Regions from separate parts of the Homo sapiens genome. Here all the other regions are linked to region 2. Evidence: fine-mapped expression QTL. A gene starts in region 2. Each other region holds a variant in brackets. All regions are shown on one strand. Distances are between the middles of the regions. Region 1 overlaps PBX1 (PBX homeobox 1). Region 2 holds the start of PBX1 (PBX homeobox 1). Region 3 overlaps PBX1 (PBX homeobox 1).

Region 1 (5,289 bases), 31 kb before region 2:
TTTCCTTTCTCAACAGACCATCAACTTTGCAGACCCTTGAGAATTAAAGGCCTGCCAGGGATGATCTTAACTTTGGAAAGTTGGGCTACTAGGCAAATTTGCAGCAATAGAAGCTGCTTTGTGATTTCCCTTAAACTCAACCAAAATGGTTGGCATGGAGGTTTACACGTCAAAGCTAAGTGTTTCTATTTCCTTTCCTAGGACATATACTGGGATGAACCTCATCCAGACTCTCACACTCAAACTATGAGCCCTGTGAAGATTTCATATGCTAGGAAAGAATCGCTGTTGCTCTCTCTTAAAACCACAGACTTGAACACAACTTGATTTGAACAAAGGCCCTCCTCCCCACCTCCCTCCAGCTTCCCAACCCCCATCCCCTTCATCTGCCTTTCCCCCCAGCCACATTAACTACTCAGAAACACAGTCACTCCACTCTAGAGTTACTCAGGAATCACATTCTTAGAATAACTCATCAATTATACCTGTCAACTTGCCAAAAGTGCCACAGGGGAGGTGGAAAGTCTAGACTGCAATGAACTGCAGTGCCACAGCACCCCTGTTCACAGAAGGCCCCAACTTTGCAAATGCCTTTACAGGCTCACAAGAAACAAGAATCCAAGGAAATACAGGAGCACTGGGTTAGAATGCAGACACTATCACCAAGTTACTCTCAGGCTCAGGGTAGGGCATGGATCTCTCCATTTCTCTACTTGTAGGATAGGAAAACCTGCACAAGTCTGCTAACAGAATGTTCTGCCATACAAAGCCTGGGTTAGGAAACATTAAAAAGAAATGTCACTGTATTATTTAATATGCACACAAGCTCATCATCAATAAAAGCACTGCCAAGAAAGCAGCGCCATGACAGACATACTTTTAATTAATTGGCAAGGATCATTAGTAATTAGAACATTTATTGTATGCAAATGCTGCTGCTAACTCTGAAAAGTTTACTCTCTTAAGCAGGGTAAACATTCACATGAACCCGTTTGTGCTACTAATATAGTTACAGAGCTCCTTTTTTCATGGGTGAAAAGGTAAGTTTTCATTCAACTTAGCCCGAAATTATTTAGAATCCACATTATCAAAGATCTTAATTAATAAGGTTTTCCCTTGATTCCAAAATTTTTTGTGAACAGAACTCTTTTCCAGAAATATTTAACTGGGGGCCAGGAGCGGTGGCTGACGCCTGTAATCCCAGCACTTTGGGAAGCTGAGGCAGGCAGATCACTTGAGGCCAGGAGTTCCAGACCATCCTGGCCAACATGGTGAAACCCCGTCTCTACGAAAAATACAAAAATTAGCTGGGCATGGTGACACATGCCTGTAGTCCCAGCTACTTGGGAGGCTGAGGCAGGAGAATCGCTTGAACCTGGGAGGCAGAGGATGCAGTGAGCCAAGATCATGTCACTGCACTCCAGCCTGGCAACAGAGCAAGACTCCATCTCAAAAAAAAAAAAAAAAAAATTAGCCAAGTGTGGTGGCACACGCCTGTAGTCCCAGCTACTCACGAGGCTGAAGAAGGAGAATCACTTGAGCCCAGGAAGCGGAGGTTGCAGTGAGCCGAGATCGCACCACTGCCCTCCAGCCTGGGTGACAGAGTAAGATCTTGTCTCAAACAAACAAACAAAAACCTCAATAAATGTCTGGAAGGGTAATCATGCAGTCAGAGATTTTTTTTTTAATATCCTGAATCTTCAACATCCCTGTAGAGCAGACTTTGCTCTTTATTTGGTTTACAGTTTAACAAATCCTTAGATCAATGCCCTGTTTACCCCAACAGACTAAACTCCCAATTGCTCTAACCATCCAAGCTTCCAAGGGCTAGGTAAAAGCATACACTTTTGGGAGTCATATATAGTCCACTATGATTCTGAAGATTTAGGGGAGGAAAAGGCAATAGATCTCCTGGTCACAATGCCAAGTAAGATTTCACACTGTTGTCCTCCTCATTAAGGCTCACCAAAAACGGCACCTCTCAACTTAACTTCCTCCTCGTCAGTTTAGGCCCCATTATTCACTTCCCACAGAGCAGCTTGTTTACCTGAAGCACAGGGGGGCGGCGGCGATTGGGAAGAAGCAAGCAGTGCAAGTGAGCAAGTCCAGAGCACAAAGAAAACAAGGAGCATGCAGGAGAGCCCTGTGGTAGCTCCTAATGAGGCTGGGACAATCAAGAAAGTGTTCCCCTTTTGGCTCCTCCCTTTCCAGTTGCGCTGGCCAAGGTATTTCTTCTATCTGCTCCCTGACCCCCAGCTTTTTTTTTTTTCAACACAGGGTCTCGCTCTGTTGCCCAGGCTGGAGCACAGCAGCACGATCACGGCTCACTGCAGCCTTGACCTCCCAGGCTCAGCAATCTTCCCACCTCAGCCTCCCGAGTAGCTGGGACTAGAGGCATGTGCCACCACACCTGGATGTCTTATTATTATTACTATTTGTAGAAACAGGATCTCACTATGTTGCCCAGGCTGGTCTTGAAATCCTAGGCTCAAGCCATGTCTCACCTCAGCCTCCCAAAATGTTGGGATGAAAGACATGAGCCACCGCACCTGGCCTTTCTTATCAGCCTTTTTACGGGAGGCTCCGTGTGAGCATTAAGATATTTATTTTTCTCTGACAAACAAGAGCACCACAACAGGAACAGAAATCTAATTCAACTTCAATCACTGGATCACTATAAGACCTTGGAAAAGTCACTTCACCTTCCTCCCCAGCAATTCAATCTTAGGAACAGGAATCAGAAAAGTATTTGTCAGTCTCCTTCCCCATGGTGACAGGTGGATAATATCTCCTCCACCCTAAATACCTCGCAGGGATGGAGAAGGATGGATGAGCAGGCATTACAGCCAATATTCTACTCTCTGGCAATAAACAACTCACCTTTTGGAGGTAAACGGTCTCTTTCCAGGGCACCAGGGGATCATTTAGCACTCTGGAAGAAGTAATTTGCTCTATGGTTCTCTGGTGTCCTGAAAAGTGTAATCCACCTCCAAAAGGTGAACCCTTATATCCCAGAGAATTTGTTTTCTCTGGGATCAGAACGCTTTAATGTTTTCAGTTTCAGGAAAAGACACCACAGGTATCATTTTCTGGTCAAGAGAAGACTCTTCCCTCTCCCCGCCCCCTCTCCTTACTGATCATCCCATACTCTCTTCCCCTCAAACAGAAACCAGATGAAACCATCTGCAAACAACTTGGGAATGCTG[T/A]GTGTGTGCCTGCAGAAACTTAAACAAAAATCCTTTCTCAGCCGCGCCCCCCTCCTCCTTCCAGTGGTTGTTAAGGGCCCGGCGAGTTAATGGGAACTTTTCTCCTCTCCCCTCCCTCCCCCACTGCCCCTCTCCCGCCTGGGTCCTCAGCATTTGATTCCTGTCTGTCACTGAGTGATGAGGACAAAGGGTGAGGAGTCAGGAAAAGGTCTGCGCCACTTTGTTCAGAGTCTGGATTCGAACTTTGGATGAACCCTTCATCGGGGAGGGGGCTGGGGAGGAGGGGAGAGGCCGGCAAGGAGAAATCCGCTGCTGTTCTCGCCGCTGGAGCCTCAAAAAAGAGAGAAAGATTCTCTTTAAACAACAGAAAGGAAAAAAGAGGGTTAGGAGGGTAGAAACAGCCTCCCTCAGCCCAGTTAGGAAAAGGAGGGCATGGTGGGGGCGGAGGGATAAAGGGGGCTGAGCTTAAGAAAACAGAAGGCCGGGGCAACGCGCTCAAACAAGGCTGTTGGGCCCATGCTGTGGGCGGCCAGCCAAGAGCTAGTTTTGTTTCTTCCCCCTCCAGCCTCTCTCTCTCTCCCTCTTATTTTTTTTCCCCCTAAACCAAAGGGAATTCCTAATAAAGCCACAGCAGACTTGTAGAGAGCAAGGGAAAGGAAGAAGGAACCAGAGGTGGGGAAAAAAACAGATGAAACTCATTGCTTTCTGGAAGTCCAGAATAAAGAATATATATGCATATAAAATTATAGCACACTTCACCATATGCTTCGAAACTAAAAAAAAAAAAAAAAAAAAAAAAAAAGCTTAGTCCGGAGTGTATTTCTCTTTTCTCTTTTTCCTCATCTCTGTGTGTGTGTGCACTTACATATACTGGCTGGCAACTTTTACCGTGTGATTTTTTTTCCCCAAATCCTGTACTGTAGTTTTTAAAAAGCACTATTAACATACAGTTGAAGTCACAGCAAAAGCCAGTTTGTCTTCTTTGTGCTCAATAAAACCCAGCTGAAACTCTTTCACCTCCCCTTACTATTGATTTTTCTATTGTGCTCTACAGGCGGGTGTATCTCACTCACTCATCAGACTGCCTTTCATTCTGTGAACCTCTCTGACCGCATCTGGATGTGAGGTTTTTCAGCTCCCTGCGATGGGTATCCTTGCTTCATTCAATCATTTGGGGCCCGCATGCAACCATGCAGTCACTTTTGGTTTGGCCTCTGTCCTTTGGTCTTTGCCCCAGACTCTGGATTTCACTTCCAAAAAGATCAGGTGTCTATCCCAGCACAGAAGATGAGAGGTGACAAGGCATCCTTGCATCCTAGGGCTCTTTCTCTTCTCTTCTTGCATATAAAAATGGGACTTCAGTGACTGTGCAGGAGATTCAGAAAAGGGGTGGGGGATGAGAAGGAGGATCAGGGAGGAGTGTACTGCTGCAACATCTGGCACCTGTTCTACCTCTCCTGGGGACACCCCCTGGTGTGGCGCGTGTGAGGCTGTATGTGCCGGACTGCTGCAAGTGAGAACTCTGTGTCTGTGTGTGCCTCATCCGCACAAAACGATGTGAAGAAGAGAAGCAGATGGGTCAACAGGATGACTATTCATTAATCTTCTGAGAAACTGGGTTAGGAAGTGAATCCGTGTATTTAAAACTTCTCATTTTGCATTCCTATGAATGGGAGAATAAACTCTACACTTTGAATAAGAGTGCATGACATCCTTACTCTTAAAAAAAAAAATCAGACACACAAAGATCATCAGCTAACAACAAAGAGGCAGATAAAGTGCTGGGTGAGTATACACAATACAAAAAGGGCTCCTCACCCGACAAAAGGGAGTGCTAGAAGCATAGACCTGAAAGGGATCTTATTAATCATTCATATCTAACCCCTTCACTTAGAGATGAGACAGCCAAGACCCCCAATGTGTAAGCAACTTACCAAGTCACCACAACACTCTCCACAACACTCCCCTCTGGTGTTCCTTCTGTCATATACATTGCTTCCATGAAACTAAGGAATGGACTTAAGTTTAGGATAAGGATTACCAAAATCACACCCATACACTTTTTAGGAACACATCTACATAA
Region 2 (5,289 bases):
ACACCCGTAAACCTTAGTACTTTTGAGTTTACATGTTGCATGTGCTTGCAGCTAAAATTGAGTATAATTCATAACATCTATGTTTTTAACTGCTTCCTCTCATTTTCTCAACTCAGATTCTTATTTCACGTAGACAGAAATACACATAATGATGTCTTCTCCATATAACCAAGTCATCTGAAGTATAGGAGTTGCGTATATTTGTTTACAGGGTTTTCAAAGAGAAAAACGCTACTTCGGAGATATAACAAAGCTGGGTAATTGTACAGACATATGTGGTCATTAGATTTTTAAAATTCTTCCTTTTGAGTTCGGCCTTGGGCAAGCTGTTAGCGGGTTGTCACTTAGTCTATGTTTTACTTTAAAAGAGAATTTACTGTAAAATCCTGAAGTAGAGAACCATATACCTGGCAGTGGATTAACTTGAGAGGCTACACAGTTTATTATGTTTCCTTAATGAAGACCTTCATGTCCTATAGTACTGAAATATATAAAATTCATAAATGCTTTCATTTCTAAGTGGTCCTGAAAGAAGCATGGGGGAAAAGAGCATGCTTGATTTTTGTCCCCCCACCCCTTTTTAAAGGACCCTACATAGCTGTCTGTGTCACGGAAGGTTAGTAAACCGGCTGAAATTAGGAGACAATAAAGTTAAACTAAAAATCTGAGTCTCTTAAAACTAACAAATATGCCTAAAAACAAAATCACCTTTTCATCAACTTTTTAAAAAAACAAAATTAAGTGAATGCAAAATATTTTCTGGATAGCTGACAAGTACTGACAAAGAAATACCCTGCTTTTTTGTTGTTTTGTATTTTGGGTAGGGGGGGAAGAAAGGAGAAAAGATAAAAATTAATTTTGGACGGGAGAGTCAAGAAAGAAAATCAAACTCGCTGAATTAGGTAAGGAGTCAACTAAATTTGCAAATAAAGTGTTCTTGGGACATTTTATTTCGTAATGTTACAGAGTCCCCTCAACAAGAAGGCATGGAATGCTGTTCAAAACTTGACAATTCTGCTTTCTCTGATACTTTTTTAAAGCAGTAAAAAGTGCCGAGGGCCGCTTTTGGATCAGTTGGCAGTATTTTCGGCATGCCTGTGTGTTTGTGTGGATATAAATGAATACCCCTATATTCACACACACACACACAAATATGTACACAGCCACATCTCGGCATGGGCGATTACACTTTCGATAACAACGCTCCTTCAAATTTTACTCCTCCGCCATGTAGTTGCTTGTCAAAATGAGAAAAGAAATAACATTTTTCAAAAAAAGCGCTGTGGTGATTCGGTTCCCATTGTTTCCCCCTGCAAGAGGAAGAAAAACAAAAAACCCCAAGAAAGGAAAAGAAAAGCCTCCATCTCACCTGGCCTGCGCCTCATCCAAACTCTGGTCTGTGATGGTCATAATTTGCTGTAAAATGTCTCCAATGTCCTGCTTCCTCCCGCCCTCCCCCTCGGTCCCTCCGGCCCCATCCTGCAAGTGCTGGGACAGGCCGGGGTGTCCGGCCATCCCGACCCCAGCATGGGAATGCATCAGCCTGGGCTGCTCGTCCATCTCCAAAGGCTACGGCAGCCCCCGGCTCTTCCTCTTCTGCTCCTCGGCTCGGCTCCTGGGAAGCACCAAGGCTTTTTATCCTTCAAGCTTGTCTTCAAATCCTTTTCAGGATAAACAGGGAAGGGGGAAAAAAGAAGACCAAAAGAAAAAAAAAATCCCTTTGCCTCTTTAGAGGATGGTGGGAGGATGAGGAGGGGGAGGGGGAGGGGGCGTGAAGGGGTTGCGGGGTGAGGGTGGGGATAAGGGCTGGTGGGGAAGGGTGTTGACTCCAAAAAGCAAGAAAAATAAACCACCTTCCCACTTGGCGAAAAGAAATCAGAGCTGGCTTTAGGTTTTTCAGTCCGGTCTCCTTTGCAAGGCAGAAATGGGCTCCCGGCGCTTAAATCTGTGGCTTAATCCTTTTGCAAATATGCATTGATCGGGAGAAAGGAGAGGAAGGCAGGGGGATTGCAATGCAAACTTTCCCCCCCCACCCCCCGCTGCCCCCCACCCCCACTCCGGGCCAGAGTGATCTCAAAGGGGGTGGGCTGTTGCAAAAGCCAGATCTCCCCCAGCCGCGGCGGCAGGCAAAGCACAGGCTCTCTCCTCCTCCGTGTCTCTGCAAACTCCAGCAGCCCCGTCAGCCTCCTGCTTTTGTTTAGCTCAGGCTCAGGACTCCAGAAACATATACAGAAAAACCACAGCCTGAGAGGAGGAGGAGGAGGAGGAGAAGAAGGAGGAGGAGGACGAGAAGGAGGAGAGGGGAGGGGGCAAAGGGAAGGGGAGGGGGCGGGGAAGCCGGGAGGCTGGGGAGAGGAGGAGGGAGGAGGGCGCCTGGAGCTCCTCCCCGCTTCCCTGATTGGCCACCAGATAAAGGACCGGCCCCCTCCTCCCCTACTTTCCTCACGGCGCCTCCTCTCCAGCCTCCTTCAGCTCCTCCTCGCCCGGCGCCCTGTCAATCAGAGTTCAGAGGTGGGCCGGGAAGGAGGCCGAGCTAATAGCAAGTCTCCAGTCCTTAAAGGTGCAATGGTACTGTAGTTCCAGCTCACTTAGTTTCCACTTTCCCTGCTCGCCTTACTTAGGTTGCGTCCTTGAGGAAAATGTGGCTCCACTTAAATGCAAACATATAAAATTAACACGAAAGAACACAGACGGTGTGCGTCTTCCCGCCCACCCCTGCTTTTCTTTTGCTGTGGCATTGTCATTTAAAACTTGATTCTTTTAAATGCTTAGACCTCAGGGAAACTGCTGAGAGCACAAGTTTGTCAGCACGACGTAGTTATGAAACACAATCGAGCTGTTAATATAATTAATAAAGATCTCTAATAAGTGGCAGATGTAATAATAGATACATTTAAAAAAACAATTCTAGCACAGTAAAGGTGAAAAGAATACCAAACTGTGTCATTTTTGCTGCATGAAAACTAAATTATGGACTATGAAACTGAAAAATGCTCAAGAAAAAGAAAGATTAATAAATAAGTTCACCAAATGAAACTAATTCAACATTTCTCTCTCTTCCCCCGGGGGAAATTAGTTATTTGGCTTAAATACCTAATAAAGAAATGCATTATCACAGTCTAGTTCTAGTTTTTAATATAGTCTAATAAGCATTATTAACTGGGAAGAGAAGTGAACTGACATTTATTGAATGCCTACTATGCACCAAGTAATTTGCATGAGTTATTTTATTTAATCCCCAAGACATCTTTGTGAGTTATGGATTATTATTTCCATTTTACAGAGAGGGAACTCAGAAAGGTTAAATAATTTGTCCAAGGTCCACAGTTATTAAGTGTCAAAGCTGGAATTTAAACCCAAGTGTGACTCCCTCCAAAGGCCTAGTATTTCCACTGCACAATCTGCTTCAGTCTAACAGAAATGTGTGAATAGTGTTAAAAATTAGTTATGTGTCTATTGCCTGTCCAGTTTGAAAGGAAACTTGAGGTGCTTAAAAGGGTACATATTCCAACAAGACAACTCCAATTGAAAATGGGTAGGAAAAAATAAAAAATAAATACAATGGGATCAAGAAAAAAGCCAACAAAAGTCATAACTAAGGTCCAGTATCATAGCTCCAGACAGACACAAATTTGCTTCCAATCTTTTCATTGGGCAAAGTGAGAGGGAAAAATCTGACTGTGTACACAGTCACAATGAATATAAGATAAAATAGCAGGCCAATTACTTAGGAAATGTCCAGAATATTTTGTAATATAAAATATTCTATTGTGTAGCCAGCCCTCTTCCTGGATGGCAGTATAGCAAAGGAAATGCAAAGCGCAGTGTAACCAATCTGCAAGCGCAGTGTAACCAATCTGCAAAATGGAAAGCAGCCTTGCCAGGTGCTTCGAGATCCTCAAATAAAATGTTATTCTTCTCACCAATCATTACGCAAAACAAGTTTGGCAAGATAAGGAGCACTGATGCAAGCATTTCAAAGCAGTTTTTAGCAAGCTACTTGGCACTTATTGGTATGAGGGCATGCAATACAGAGTATTAATTGTAATTATGATGTTATATTACTTAATAACAATTGTTTTATTCACATACATATCCTGATTTTTAAACTGTTTTTTTAAAAATTAACACTAATCAAAAGTTGAGCACAAAACTATATACTCAAATCACATATCAATCACAGTGATTGAGAGTTAGCATATCCCTTACAGAGACGAAGTTACCACATTTTAAAGCATGAAAAGAAGTCAACCTAGAGTCTATAAGAAATCAGTTTGTGAGTAATTAATTCTAATTGCAAACCTAATAAAATCTTTCTAGGCAAAGTACTGGAAAAGGTACCATCAATTCCAGAAGATCATTGTCATCTAGGAACATTTTAGTAGGGAAATAAGATGTGTATACACAATGATACTAAAAATAGGTAATATTTATTGACTCCATACTATAATTAAGTATTATATTCAAGGTGTTTTGTTAATTTAATCATTGCAACTGTCTTACCCCGATAGCTATGCTTTTAACCATTACTCTAGAGTGTTGCCCAGATATATTTCAATACATAATAAATGCTATAGAAGTGATAACAAGCCCTTAGACATCCTATAAGAGATGAGAGAAGGGAGTAACCAGTTCGAGTGAATAGAAGGCTTCGCGGTGGATCTAAAGGATGAACTGGATCTGGAGGGCTAGGTTAATGAACTTGACGGAAGTACAGGCTATCTCTTCAGGCACAATGGAAATGTTATTAGGTGTGATTGGGAAGACTTTTTTTTTTGAAACAGAGTCTCACTCTGTGACTCAGGCTGGAGTGCAGTCGAGCGATCTCAGCTCACTGCAACCTCCACCCTCTGGGTTCAAGTGATTCTCCTGCCTCAGCCTCCCAAGTAGCTGGGACTACAGGCACCCGCCACCAGGCCTGGCAATTTTTTTTTTTTTTTTTTTTTTTTTTTTAGTAGAGGTGGGGTTTCACTGTATTGGCCAGACTGGTCTCAAACTCCTGACCTCGTGATCCACCTGCCTTGGCCTCCCAAAGTGCTGGGATTAAAGGAGTGAGCCACCGCGCCCAACTGGAAAGACTTTTAACAGAAACATTTGTGTTTTATTTGATGGACATTAGGGATACACTGAGGTAAGTTGTTTCTTTCTTTCACAGATAGGAACAGAAGAGCATGTTTCGGGAAGAATTATCTGGTTACTCAACACTTTGGGCAACAATTAGCTGTTTACCCAAATCATTTGGCAAGGAAAGATGAAATTAGGAAAGCAGCAGTAGAAATGGAAAAGAGA
Region 3 (5,289 bases), 200 kb before region 2:
GTTTTGACAGTAAGAAGCCCTATCTACTGAGGTCATATACGGCATTTAGGTTCCCTGACCACTGGCCACCAAATAACCAAGGAATTGATCCTATAAATCTCCACAATCCTATAAACCATTCTATTAAAGTTTAAGTAGGAAGTAACACCAAGGGGGAATGTGAATTTAGTAGCCTGGAGCACACAGATTAATCTTTATGAATTTATTTCAGAGTTTGTGGTCACTCTTGTCTCCACAGATTGCTCACCATGGCATGATTGGAGTCAGTCCCTTTTCAGTGTTGCTGTTGCTTGGGAAGTACATCACCTCCTCTTTGGATGTGCCTTGCTGCAAATGTGTACAATTACACCCAATACAGCAAACATTTATTAATACGATCAAGATTTGCCTTTGCCCTCAGCCAGATTCTCTAGTATAACATGACACCTATGTTCCAAATCAGATCTAGACAATTAAAATGACTCCTCGGTCTATCTTTCTTGGTTAGGGAAAATCTGTAGGCTGTAGCTAAACCCAAGTGCAGTGACATTTCAGAAACTTGCCCCGTTTCTAAGAGCTGGAACATTTTTACCCAGCTACATGTCCAAGACTCCCTTGTAACTAAATGTAGTCGTAATACTAAGTCCTAACTGATGGGATACAAGTGGTAGTACAAGTATTATGCTAGAAAGTCTTTTTTAAAAGGAATAAGTCTACAGTTATTCTCTGCCCCTTCCTCCATTCTGATGCCTGGAATGCAGATGGAATGGCTGGAGCTCTAGCAGTCAACTTAGATCACGAGGATGACACAGGATCACCTTTTAGGGAAGACTGAGTGAAAACTCAGGAAGGAGCCTAAGTTTTTTGTGGTCTATGGAGCCACTCTGCCAGCCCTGAACTGCTTATATCTTACTTCCTATGTTTTGAAAGGGGGTGGATGTGGTTTCAGCTACTCACATTTGAACCTAATCCTAATACATTCACATTGGACTTGAATTGTGATTTTGACTGTTTAACCTCTCTGGGTTTGTTTTCACATTTGTAAACTAAGAAAAATAAAAGCTATCCCTTTAGAATTATCATGATATCAAAATCGAGATAATATACATGAAAAGTACTTGGTACACTGGAAATTATTATACCAATATTAGTACAGCTGCTATTATTTTTCAGTTTATTACAAATTTCCAAAGAAAAGTAGGTCAATGATTGACAAATGAAAACTAGCTGAAAATAAGAACTCCAATTTCATTATTCTGGCAAGATTTGATATTAGCAGAAAATGAGTTCAAGATAATTAATTGTAAGAAAGTGACCACAGGTTATTAAACATTTCTAATTGTTGTGTTCCTAGAAAATTTGCTACAAAGATGTTCTTTTAACTACTTGAAAAATATGGAATAATAGCATTTCTAACTCCATTTAGGTTCCAAATTGCTCAACGAATATCATTTAGATATCAGAAGCTGAGCCAGAAATCAAGATAGACAGAGACACATGGAGGAATGGACCTACTGCACACTGCAGACCCAGATAACTAATTACCAGGTTGGTTCCAGAAGGTGGGTTATCATAAGCTGATATGAAAATGAAGCACACTTTATATTTTTTAAAGTATGTCAAATTGCTGAAAGACTTGGCTCTATGTTTTAGGTTAATTTTCACTGTTATCTCTAAGGGTAGGTAGGATCACATTTAACATAGTAGGAAAAACAAGTGAGATGCTGGGCTGAGGACTGTTGCAAATTGCATCGGAAAAGAACAGAGTTCCCTAAACTATGCTGCTTCTGCCAACCTGTATTGACCTAGGGCATCAGAGCTCTTACTGTAACATTCCAACACTTTGTCTTTTAAGCTGGCAATTTCTCTGTAGGACACTTTATTCTTCATCTTAATGACTTAAACTTATAGAACCATGGGAGGCTAGGAGATACTATCAATTTATATTCTATTTAACTTTACAAGGGCAGGTCATCAAAATAAGGGTGAAACAATGTTGAGCCCACAGGTGTCACACTGCAAAGCTGGTTTCCAACAGTACGTGAGGAACAAAGTGAAATTAAAAAATATATATATTGATCTTCTTGGAGCGCCCATGTAATCTAATACAATATCAATTAATCTTAGAGAATATAGTTGGTTCATCCCCCCTTCTTTGACATTACTGGTAGATATTTGAATTAGTCACCCTTCTAAGAGTATCTATAGTACTGTATTTGCCCAACACTTAGTGATCATAAATTTGAGGTTGAAGGAAAAAAATCCCTCACACTGATCCAAATAAAGGTATAGCCTGAACTAAATAGCAAGCTTTACAATTTGCTAAAATGACCATAAGAATAATGTCCCAATGGGCCGGGCGCGGTGGCTCACGCCTGTAATCCCAGCACTTTGGGAGGCCGAGACGGG[C/T]GGATCATGAGGTCAGGAGATCGAGACCATCCTGGCTAACACGGTGAAACCCCGTCTCTACTAAAAATACAAAAATTAGCCGGGCATGGTGGCGCGCACCTGTAGTCCCAGCTACACGGGAGGCTGAGGCAGGAGAATGGCGTGAACCTGGGAGGCGGAGCTTGCAGTGAGTCGAGATCGCGCCACTGCACTCCAGCCTGGGCGACAGAGCGAAACTCCGTCTCAAAAAAAAAAAAGAATAATGTCCCAATGAAAGACGATGTTTAATGTTTATTTTTTAGAATGTCCAAAAACATACCAAACCCAAAGCCTTTTGGCATGTGTGTACACACACCCTCCTCCACACAAACACATTTAAAATACTACTAGTGTCTAATAAATATGTGCATGTAAGATTATACTCATAAATTTGCATAATTTGCTCTACATGTGTGTTCTATTTTTATATATTGATTTAGTGAGCTGAGCAGACACATCTTACTGTGAGGAAAAATCCTTTTCCCTGACCACCAATGTGTCCCTAAGTAGTGTGATGTGAGGGGACAGTACTTTTAAGGGTATGGAGGAGGGAAGTGGTTTTACTCAAGATTCTTGAATAAATCATGCAGTCACTGCTAAGAATTGATGAGAAATAGACACCAAAAAGAAAAAGATGGGTGGGGGCAGGCAGACAGAGGTTGCTTATACTTTTAGAATACAGCCTTATTCCAAGTGAGAGGAAAGAAAGTATCCAAAAATAACAACAATGATTATACATTTGGCTCCAAACGTGAGTGCAAACCAAGTACTCTAAGGAGCAATCTAATTGGGAAATGTCCGAGGTGAAAAAGAGGCAGTTTGAGAAATTCTTACCCATCAAGCTTTATTGTGTTATTCCAACTAAGCAGAGACAAAAAGACAAATCTCAGCTCCCTACTTTCATTTATAATTGAACCAGGTCCAGAAGGATGAAGCAAGTACCATCTGTAACGCATGCTGCATTAGCAGCCGGGAGAATGAAATATTCAAATTACTCTAGGCCACCTCACATAATGACAGGGCTACAAAAACTGACTTGCAACCACAGACGAGAGAAGAAGAAAAGAAAGTTGTAAAATTTTGTTTTGTTTTTTATTGTTGTTGTTTTGGGGGGCAGGAGTTAACCAAACAAAGTGTTATTCTTAAAGAGAGTGAATATATAACAAAATATGTTTTAAAAAATCCGAAGGAAGGAAGGAGGGAAAGAAGGAGAGAAGGAGGAAGGAAGGGAAGGGAGGGAGGGAGGGAGGAGGGATGGAAGGAGGAAAGGAGGGAGCAAAGAAGGGTGGGAGGGAGGAAGGGAGGGAAATGCCATCCCAAACTTCCTCAACTTGGAAACCTTCCCACTTTAGATACAGGATCCTGTTGTTCTCATATTTTGCTTCATATAAATAAGGGGCACTATTTTGGAGAGGGTGGAGATGGAGCTGCTCATTCTGATTCGGTTAATCAGGGCTGCTGAATGTGTGACATGGTAAGTGGCTCCAGCCCCGAGCAGTAGTCAAGACGGAGTGACAGGCTCCATTTAAGATGTCATTGCACATAATAAAGTGTAAAACTATACTTAAAATAAACGAGATAGAAACAATAAACTTGACTCAGTATTTGAACTTTTACAGACACACGGAGACTGGAGGAGAAAGCACGTGTGGCTGCGTGCTTGGGGACTTTGAAGAGGCCACTACCTCTACAGAGCTTTACAACTGTGGTTTTTAGGGGGATCTAGTCGGGCTCCATGTGGAGGTCAAGCAGTCATATCTTACTGTGTGAACTGGGCATCTGATTAGCTCATGGCCAAAACCTCCTAAGGAGTCAGGAGCACAGGCCATAACCAAGGGCCAGGCCTGGAGGCACAGGTCTTCCCTGAGAGTGCCCCAAAGAGTAATTTTGTACTCCTTACGTGTCCTGACTCCAGAAGTGTCTCCCAGTTCCAGCTCTCCATGTCCCCGATTGTCCACCTGTGCCAGGGTTGCCTCGCTGCAGCTTGGCTTCACCACTTCAGAAGGTTTAACACAATATTGTCAAGGCTGGTTGGCCCCAAATTGGAATGATACTTTCTTTCCCCCTCTAGGCCCTGCAATTACTGTTACATGTAGGGGTGGATTCAATGTCAAAGCAAATGTTTTCCTTATGTTTCTTTCTTTAAAAAAAGAAAAAAGAAATCATAAATGGGAGCTAGCACATGAAGCTCCTGAACCAGCCACCCAGGATTCTGTGTCACCCGGGGTGCAAGGAGTCTTGGCTTCCTTGGGCATTAGATTTAGGGGCCTCCACTCAGAAGGTGACCCACCCCCTGGGAATCTATGTTAATGGCATACATAAGGGCAGAGCTTGGAATGAGCCATTCTTTCCCCTGCAGTCACAGCATGTTACTGGAATGGGGGTTGAGCCAAATAATGATCCTAATCGTTGCCTGTATATTGGTTTCTTCACCCACCTTCCACCCTCACCTGCAAAAAGATTGTTAAGGTACTTGAGAACCGACACTATCCTTTAAAGGCATATTTTTTTAGATAGTAGGATAAACTATATTAAGTAGAAATACATACATTACAGCTGTACAGTGAATTTTTGTATAGTGCATGCAGCCCAGTCTCCAGAAGTGGGATCAAGAGAGTATTATGAGCAGCACACAGAAGCCCCAGCCAAACCCTTTACAGTTACTATCTCCAAGGGTAGCCAGTCTCTTGATTCCTTTAAGCAGAGATTTGTTTTTCCTGCCTTTGCTTGCCTTAATTTTCCCTTACCTTTATCACTCCCACTGGATCCTGGAACTTCCATGCATTTAGTAATTCAGCAAGTATTTAGTGAGTACCTACTATGTGCCAGACACGATGCTAGGTGAGCACAACAGGCACTCAGCTCATGCTATGGAATTGACTA

Evidence for each region.
Region 1: its variant is fine-mapped to the expression of PBX1 in lung (TOPMed, PIP above 0.99).
Region 3: its variant is fine-mapped to the expression of PBX1 in whole blood (INTERVAL, PIP above 0.99).

What each region holds. Positions count from the first base shown.
Region 1 is chr1:164,587,193-164,592,481 of GRCh38, reverse strand. The region is part of intron 2 of PBX1 (PBX homeobox 1); the gene reads right to left. Among named protein-coding and RNA genes, the nearest start is that of PBX1, 31 kb to the right of the region's middle. RefSeq lists an enhancer at 882-1,849. The variant T/A (reference allele first, on the strand shown) is at 3,207.
Region 2 is chr1:164,556,094-164,561,382 of GRCh38, reverse strand. PBX1 (PBX homeobox 1) reads right to left here and starts at 2,199. Exons shown (of 9, transcript NM_002585.4): 1 at 1,370-2,199. The coding sequence starts at 1,560. RefSeq lists an enhancer at 2,118-2,617.
Region 3 is chr1:164,758,786-164,764,074 of GRCh38, reverse strand. The region is part of intron 2 of PBX1 (PBX homeobox 1); the gene reads right to left. Among named protein-coding and RNA genes, the nearest start is that of PBX1-AS1, 13 kb to the left of the region's middle. RefSeq lists enhancers at 3,786-4,285, 4,286-4,787. The variant C/T (reference allele first, on the strand shown) is at 2,389.